Homo sapiens: one gene and its partner. The protein of the gene in region 1 interacts with the protein of each later gene in a pairwise test. Each region holds a gene or a part of one and is shown on either strand. Other genes may lie near its edges.

What was found. The genes of interacting proteins can lie anywhere in the genome.
Region 2: the proteins of SMPD1 (region 1) and ANXA4 interact in a two-hybrid assay, tested with the Homo sapiens proteins (one large-scale study listed by BioGRID and IntAct).

The regions. Positions count from the first base shown.
Region 1 is NC_000011.10:6,389,073-6,393,273, reverse strand, and holds the start of SMPD1 (sphingomyelin phosphodiesterase isoform 1 precursor), read right to left. Parts: upstream 2,801-4,201; 5' UTR 2,676-2,800; coding exon 2,358-2,675; intron 1,891-2,357; coding exon 1,118-1,890; coding exon of another isoform or gene 1,078-1,117; intron 59-1,077; coding exon 1-58. UniProt on the Homo sapiens protein: Converts sphingomyelin to ceramide. Exists as two enzymatic forms that arise from alternative trafficking of a single protein precursor, one that is targeted to the endolysosomal compartment, whereas the other is released extracellularly.
Region 2 is NC_000002.12:69,815,134-69,818,633, forward strand, and holds part of ANXA4 (annexin A4), read left to right. Parts: intron 1-967; coding exon 968-1,061; intron 1,062-3,465; coding exon 3,466-3,500. UniProt on the Homo sapiens protein: Calcium/phospholipid-binding protein which promotes membrane fusion and is involved in exocytosis.

The sequences.
Region 1 (4,201 bases):
ATTGAGAGAGATGAGGCGGAGACCGGGGTATGGGGAAAGAGCATAGAACCCCCCAATTCTGAAACAAAGTAAACATGAGAGGTCAACACTTGTTCCAATCCTGGTCCTCCTGTGCTGGGCATTTGGGTGGAGGGTAAAAGCATACATGACATCTTCCCCACCTGCAAGGAGCTCACAGTCTAGCCAGAGACCAAACAGTTCTAATTATTGGGTCTGTGTGACACAAAAGACTCTGAGGGCAGAGGGCTCCAGGAGTATGGGGGAGGGATAAGAGTTAGCTAGAATGGGAAGCAAGGACCACACAGAGGGAAGATGACATGGGATGGATAAGGTGGGAAAAACTGGAGCACTTAAAAAAAAGGGGGAAATCATTTCCAGAGGGCCAACATGAGCAAAGACACAGCTGGGGCATAGAGAGGTTATGCTGCCAGACCTTTGAAGGAGGGTGGCTGGAGATAAGAGTAGAAAGGGAGGGCTGGAAAGCTGGGTGCAGTGGTTCATGCCTGTAATCCCAGCACTTTGGGAGGCCGAGGTGGGCAGATCATGAGGTCAGGAGATCAAGACCATCTTGGCCAACATGGTGAAACCCCATCTCTACTAAAAATACAAAAATTAGCTGGGTGTGGTGGCGTGCACCTGTAGTCCCAGGTACTTGGGAGGCTGAGGCAGAATTGCTTGAACCCAGGAGGTGGAGGCTGTAGTGAGCTGAGATGGTGCCACTGCACTCCAGCCTGGGCAACAGAGCAAGATTCCATCTCAAAAAAAAAAAAAAAAAAAAAAAAAAAAAGGGAGGGCCAGGAGCAGTAGCTGATGCCTGTGGTCCCAGCATTTTGGGAGGCCGAGGCGGGAGGATTGCTTGAGGTTAGGTGTTTGAGACCAGCCTGGGCAACATAGCAAGATCTTGTCTCTACAAAAACTAAACTAAAAAAAAAAAAAAAAAAAAAGCCTGGTGCGGCAAAACAGTAGAAAGGGAAGGAGGAGTCAGATTAGGGGAGCCAAATGAAGAGCACTAAGGACTCATGCTAGAGCAATCAGAGACAATGCCCCAGGTTCCCTTCTCCCTTCACTTTCATTCACCTTTCTTTTCCCTTCCTGGGTTTCCACGGACGATAAGTACCTGAGGGTGCGCAGGGCTTCGGCAGGCAGCCAGGGCTCCCAAGCCTTGGCCATCGCTTCATAGAGCCAGCGGGAGGAGTGGTTGCCCTCAATGAAGGGGGGAGGGAAGCTATTGACAGGTGTGCTTTCATGGTTACCCACAGCAGGGTACACTGGCACTGGCCCCAGGAACTTCCTCACAAGTGCTGTGACGGTGGTCAGGGCCCGCAGTTGGTCCTGACGAGTCTGGTGCCAGACATCATGTGCGGGGATGTCTCCTGTCCAGTACACCATATCAAAAGGGCCGGCTGGGCCCAGCCCACTCAACAGGCTCTCCAGGGTCCTCAGGGGCAGGTCACACTTGCTGTATTCGCCCCAGTATCCGGCACCTGGCCGGGATGCGGGCGGCAGGCCAGAACCCCGGCGGCAGCACAGTGGGTCTGCACAGTCAGGGTCCGTGCCCTCCAGGTAGTCATGATCCCAGTGCAGGTCAGTGAGGAAGAGGATGCGGCTGACAGGGGCACCTGGGGCTGGGGGGCTAGGGGGTTTGGGGGGCGGCTTCGGCACAGTAGGCAAAGAGATGTTCCAAGATGAGAAAATGTCCCAGTGCCCACAGGTGGAGCCCAGGAGCAGGCCACAGGCCTCAGATGGGCTCAGCACTGAGCGTCTCCACACCTCCACCATGTCATCCTCAAAGAGGTGGACAATGGATTGGCACACGGCAGGTGGTGCTATCTTCAGCAGATTGCACAGCTTGATGGCCACGGAGCCCACGCGAGCCACATTGGGTTCCTTCTGCAGTGGGAGGAGCGCATGGTGAGAAATCAGAGGCAGAGCAGAGGAACCAGGCCAACCCCTGGCCACCACCCCTTGGGCCTCCATTTCCAAACTGGGGCTGGGCAGGACTCAGTGCACCAAGCTCAGTGCACACCTTTGCCTTCCAGATATTGCCCTGTAACTCAGGCAGCACCAGGCCATCGCTTCTTCTTTAGCTCAGCGGCCTGTGGCATGAGGCCTTTGCTTGGCAAGCTGACTTCCTCAGGCACTGTCTGCATTATTTTCTTACTTCACAAAGGTCACAATGGGGTGATGGTGGCATGTAGCCATGGGTGTCCCCAAAGGGGAGCAAACTCAGTGATGGATTGTAGATGCCACCCTCTCCATCAGGGATGCATTCTGAGCCCAGCGCACCAGCATCAGCCCCAGCCCCCAGCCCCAGCACTCCTTTCGGCCTCCTCCACTGCAGCCCCTTCAGTGCTCACCTTCAGCCCGAGGTTGATGGCGGTGAATAGACCTTTGCAGATTGGGCAGGTGAGGTTCCCCCACCCAAAGACATCTCGGAGCCGGGGCACTATGCGATGTAACCTGGCAGGATGGCCTTGGGGAGAAAGAGGGTGAGCCTCTGCCGGAGCCCAGAGAACCCGAGAGTCAGACAGAGCCAGCGCCAGCGCCAGCGCCAGCGCCAGCGCCAGCACCAGGCCCATCCAAAGGAGTCCGGGGGCTCCGGCGGTCCCGTCTTGTCCCTGCTCCCGGCCGGACCTGGGGCAGCTCTGGCGGAGTGACGCTCCGTAGCGGGGCATTGTCGCGCTTCCTACACGGGGCTGGTTCGTCTGTCCCGTCCCCCCCGGCCTGGACCCTAGCCAGCCCTCAGGGCCCCGGGCGGCGCCGGGGACACCCGATTACCCTTCTCTGTAGTCGGCTGACTGCTCCGCGGCCGGCCGCAAAGCAGCTCCGCCCCTTCCTCTTCCTCTGATCTCTGACAGCTGATCTCTCGGTGGCGGGCGGCTGTCAACGCTGCGGAGGCGGAGGGGGCGGGGCGCTCCCGGGACCGCCCCGATTCCGCCCCCTCTCCCTGCCCCCGCCCTGCCCCGGGCGCACGGGCTGCGGGGGTGGGGACTCTCCCTGAGGTCACCAGGGGCTCCGCCTTGAGGTCACAGCCGCGGGAGGCCGTGCTCGTGCTTTGGAGCTCCATGTGATGTGGTCGGTGGAAGACGTCTCCTTTGTCAGAATCCGCGCTCAGATTCCCGGAATAGCTGCCAGACCGACCCCAGCGTTTAGCCCGGGAAGGGGAGGTAGGAGAGAGCAGGGCGGGCAGGATCCTCCCACTGGGTGTGTTGCCTCTGACAGGAAGGCGCCTTCCCTCGATTCCCCATGCTCTGCCACTGGCACCAGCCCTCTTGAGTCACCCTGAGAATCACTCACCTGTGATTCAGATGAGGAAACAAACCTTAGAGATGGTGAAGAGACTAGGAAGCCGTAAAGACCATATAGCCGTGGGGGCCAATAACATGGGCGGGAACCCAATTGGGTCTCCCACCTCCGTGTATCCACGACAGTAAAAGCGAGCATTTATGGAGTTGTTTATGATGTGCCAAGCACCAACCCAGGCACTTTATAATTAATAATCTTCAATTCTCACAACAACCCTAAGAAGTACCTATTATATTGGGGCTCAGAAATCCATACCCAAAATATGGTGGTTTGACTTACTAAGTTAAGCCTTAAGGTGTGTCTGGCCTTCCTACTCCCGCGCCCTCTCTCCCAAAGCCGTTACCTAGCGTCCAGACCCATCAAAAGGAACAACGGTTTTTTTCTTCCCCTCCCTACAAAACCAAGAATATAATCACACCTGAACAGACCCCTTCACATGATAATGTGCTAGTTAATCTGTTCCCTGATCCATTCCTTCTCCCTCAGCAGAATTCCTCTTCCCCTCACTCCCACAACCCCCTTTGCCTGAATGACACCTAAGCTTCTGAACTCGTCTGGGAAGTGGGTAGTCACTCTGTGGTTCCCCGTGGACACATTAATACAATTTCTATGCCTTTTCTTCAATTAATCTGTTTTTTGTGGGTTGATTTTTCAGCAGAATTTCAGAGGGCGAAGGGAAAGTTTCCCTTGGTCCCTGCAAATACTATTATTACCCTCCTTTACAGATAGGATGAGGCACAAAGAAGTTAAGTGGCAGAATAGCAATTAAACCCTAAGCTGTTTGACGAGTGCTTCTGAGGAATCCTCAGAGCTATCAAGTCCTGTCAGTTCTTTCCTTTGATAATTTTTTACAAGTGTTTTTTCCCCCCAGTTCTGGGGACATCATCTCAGATAG
Region 2 (3,500 bases), on another chromosome or scaffold:
CCTCACAGAAACACCCAGAATAATGTTTGAGCAAAAATCTGGGTAACCCATGGCTCAGTCAAGTTGACATAAAATAAATTGTCACAAGCCTGTTGAGATTCAAGTTTCAGAAGTGCTGAATAAGATGAACTCTTTTGAATTAGGTGAATTAGATGAACGCTTTCAGCTTTAAATTTTTATGATTATGTGAATTGACTCTAAAGCAGTGAGGGAATCAGAGAAAGAAGTGAAAAAATGGGGGAGTATATGGAGGTAAGCCCAATGAGCCACAATATGTGTGAGTTAAGATCTTTTTGAGAAATGTAACAGGCAAGCTGCTTATTAAAAATGAACAGTAATTCTGATTGAGCAATAATGTAGTTAAATTGAGCAGAATGAGTTTCCTATATTCCTACCTGGTTGGAATGTAAGCAATTGGCAATGGGTCCCTGGTTCTACTGTGAGACCTGTAGCCTCAGGAAAATCACAGATCATTCTAGAGCAGGGCTATCCAATAGAACTCCCCGCAGTGATGAGAACATTCCACATCTGCACTGTCCTGTATGGGTGACTACCGGCTACCTGTAGCCGCTGGGTACTTGAAATGAGGCCAATGTGATTGAAGAGCTGAATTTTAAATTGTATTTAATTTCAATTAACATTTAAACAGCCACATGTGGTTAGTGGCAACTGTAGGGGACAGCCCAAATCTAGGGCATTTCTTTTAGCTCTTAAGATAGAACCATGTAGTCTCCAGCTAGGGAACTGCTAGTGTTTGCCCTGACTCCCAGGGGGGTATGACAGGGTCCCAACAGCCTTATGCCTGAGGAAGGATCCTGAGTCATTTCCACTCACCACTACCATTTCCAACCCCATCACCAACAAAATAAAACTAAGCCAGCTCAGCTCTTTGAGCTTCTGGAAATATTTGCCTGTGTCCTGGCACATCGTTTTTGGAATTTTAGACCTGTGCTTTGTTTGGCTTCAGGACCTGTATGAGGCTGGAGAGAAGAAATGGGGGACAGATGAGGTGAAATTTCTAACTGTTCTCTGTTCCCGGAACCGAAATCACCTGTTGCATGGTAAGGCACTTACTTCATTTCCCAAAGAAAAGGAGTGAAAGATAGCAAAAACTATATTGCCCATAAGTAGTTGATAACCTTCCTCCTTCAGTTGGTACAAAGAACTGATTGTACCCAAGTGTCTTAGATTCTCACCCTGGAAATGTATTAGTCCAATGATGTATATGAAAGCTAATTTCTGAAAGATTAATTATGAATAATTAGAAAAAGTGCATGTAGTCATAGAAGTTTGGCATTCTTGTTTCTAGGAAACTGACCTTCACAGTCAGTCCTTTTTCTAAAGTAGCCCCAGTATTTTCATTCTAATGTAGTTACATATGAAAGTAATCTGTAGTAGATCAGGTAGCAATAAAATAGCAATGTTGGTTGATATTTATTCCTGTGTAATATCCAAGCTGTAAAGCTAATACAAGTGATTTCTTTAGGGGTTATGTTGTATAAGATGAATAGTGGATAATTTCAAATTTGATATGTTTCTAATTTGTTTCTGATAAATATAAACTTTGTAATGTGATTTTAACTTATTTGGGGGAAAGATACTAGACAATTTTAGAATATTTGCTGTCAGGTTCATATTCTTTTAAACAAGCAAGTAAGGATATAATAAGATATTTCATCTTTTATACGAGTTCTTTAGATCTTTAAGTACATTATAATTTTATAAACCCACCCACCATACCCTTTTAATCACACACACTGATTTGCAAAGCTTGTGGGAAATTTGAGAATGAGTTTGCTAAATTGAAAACATAAAGCAATTGAGAAGTACAACACATTCTGAAGTTGTAATTATTTCAGGTTTTTCACAGTGACAAAAAAACAGGTGATTACTCCTGTTAATCAATATCCCGGGCTACCATCAGGTACACAAACTTCTGACTCAGCTTCTTTCTTCACTTCCTTCCCTTGCCTGGTTACAAATAACAGGAATCTCCCCCTGGTGGTGTTTTCCAAGAACTGCAGGTCCTCAGAAGCCGATTTAGTGCATAAATGCATTTGCAAGAATTTTCACTTCTGGGTACAAGTCAATAGTTAGGCAGTTATGAAATATCTGTTTGTAAGCCACTGGGAGAAAATATTTTAAGCACTGTTTGGACTAGGAAAACTTCATAATTGTCTTACCAACCAACAATAATGGTGAGATTTCATAATAACTACCGTTTTGTTAATAATGTTCTATTTTCTAGGTGCAGTGTTAAGCATTTTATAAGCATTGTTTCTTGCAACACTCAATGGAGCAGTAATTATTTTCCCCATTTTACAGTGGAGAAAACTGAGGCTTAGAAAATGTGTCAATTAAGTTCTTTGATTCCAAGCCACACACACTGACTTCAATTTAAGTAAGAAAAGATGAAATAATATAGAATGGCACAGGAGGGAAAATGGAAAATACTGGTAGCTCACAGATTTGAACAGACAGCTGAACACCTTCAGGAAGAACAGAAATCAAGGCAGTTCTGGGGGTCTCAGTAGAAGGGAATAATGGATTTTATTTCTAAAGCAGAGTTTCTGAAGTTCGTTTTCTATTAAAAATGCTAAATATTGACCCCCTACTTCAGACTGGCTGAATTAGAATCTCTGAGTGTGACACCCAGGAAGTTTAATAGGTTTCTCTGAGGGTAAAGATGATGCAGTGCTTTTGGCCATCCCCGTGAGCTGCTCAATTAAAAAGTTCCCAGGAGAGAGTCTAACGGGTCCTGACTGGGTCAACTGCTCACGTGTTTGACAGAGGTTGTGGTGTATGTTGTTGGGTATGGTGTCCCTTGATTGACAGCCCTGTTAAAATCACATTGATGGAAGTGAGGCAGCACCCCAAAGAAGGCGATGGTGAGAAGATAAAATAGATACCTGCTCTAAGAAGTTTCCAGAAGGAGACAGCAAGAGAGGGGAACATATTCACCACATTCAAAAATACTTGGCAAAAAACAACAACAAATGTAATTATGTTTAAGTATTTTAAAAGATGCAACCAGCTGTTATTAACTGTGACTCAGTTCTGAAGCAGTTGAATTGTTCTAGTTTTGATGAGCCAAAAGGGAGATGACAGGGAGGTGATTGCCAAGGACAAAAACACAAAAAGACACATTCTGCTTATTAAGGAAACAATGAGAAAGGAAAGCAAAGCTCCCCAGAGGCCATCTCCATTTTATGTGTGAGGGTCCCAGATAAGGGAAAGGACTTGACTGATGTCCTCCAAACATCACAGCATTTCTTCCTCCTTATCTGGGGCCCATTCCACTCTGCACATCCCTCCTGGCTGCTTGCCCACATTACTAATTAGTTTCCTCCTGAAATATGCCAAAGAATAAATAGTGTAGGCTAGTTAAAAATGCTCATTCTCTCCATAAATTTTAGTTTCCTCTGTTTTTTCTTCCCAATAATACTATTTTGTTATTGTCTGCAGTGTTTGATGAATACAAAAGGATATCACAGAAGGAT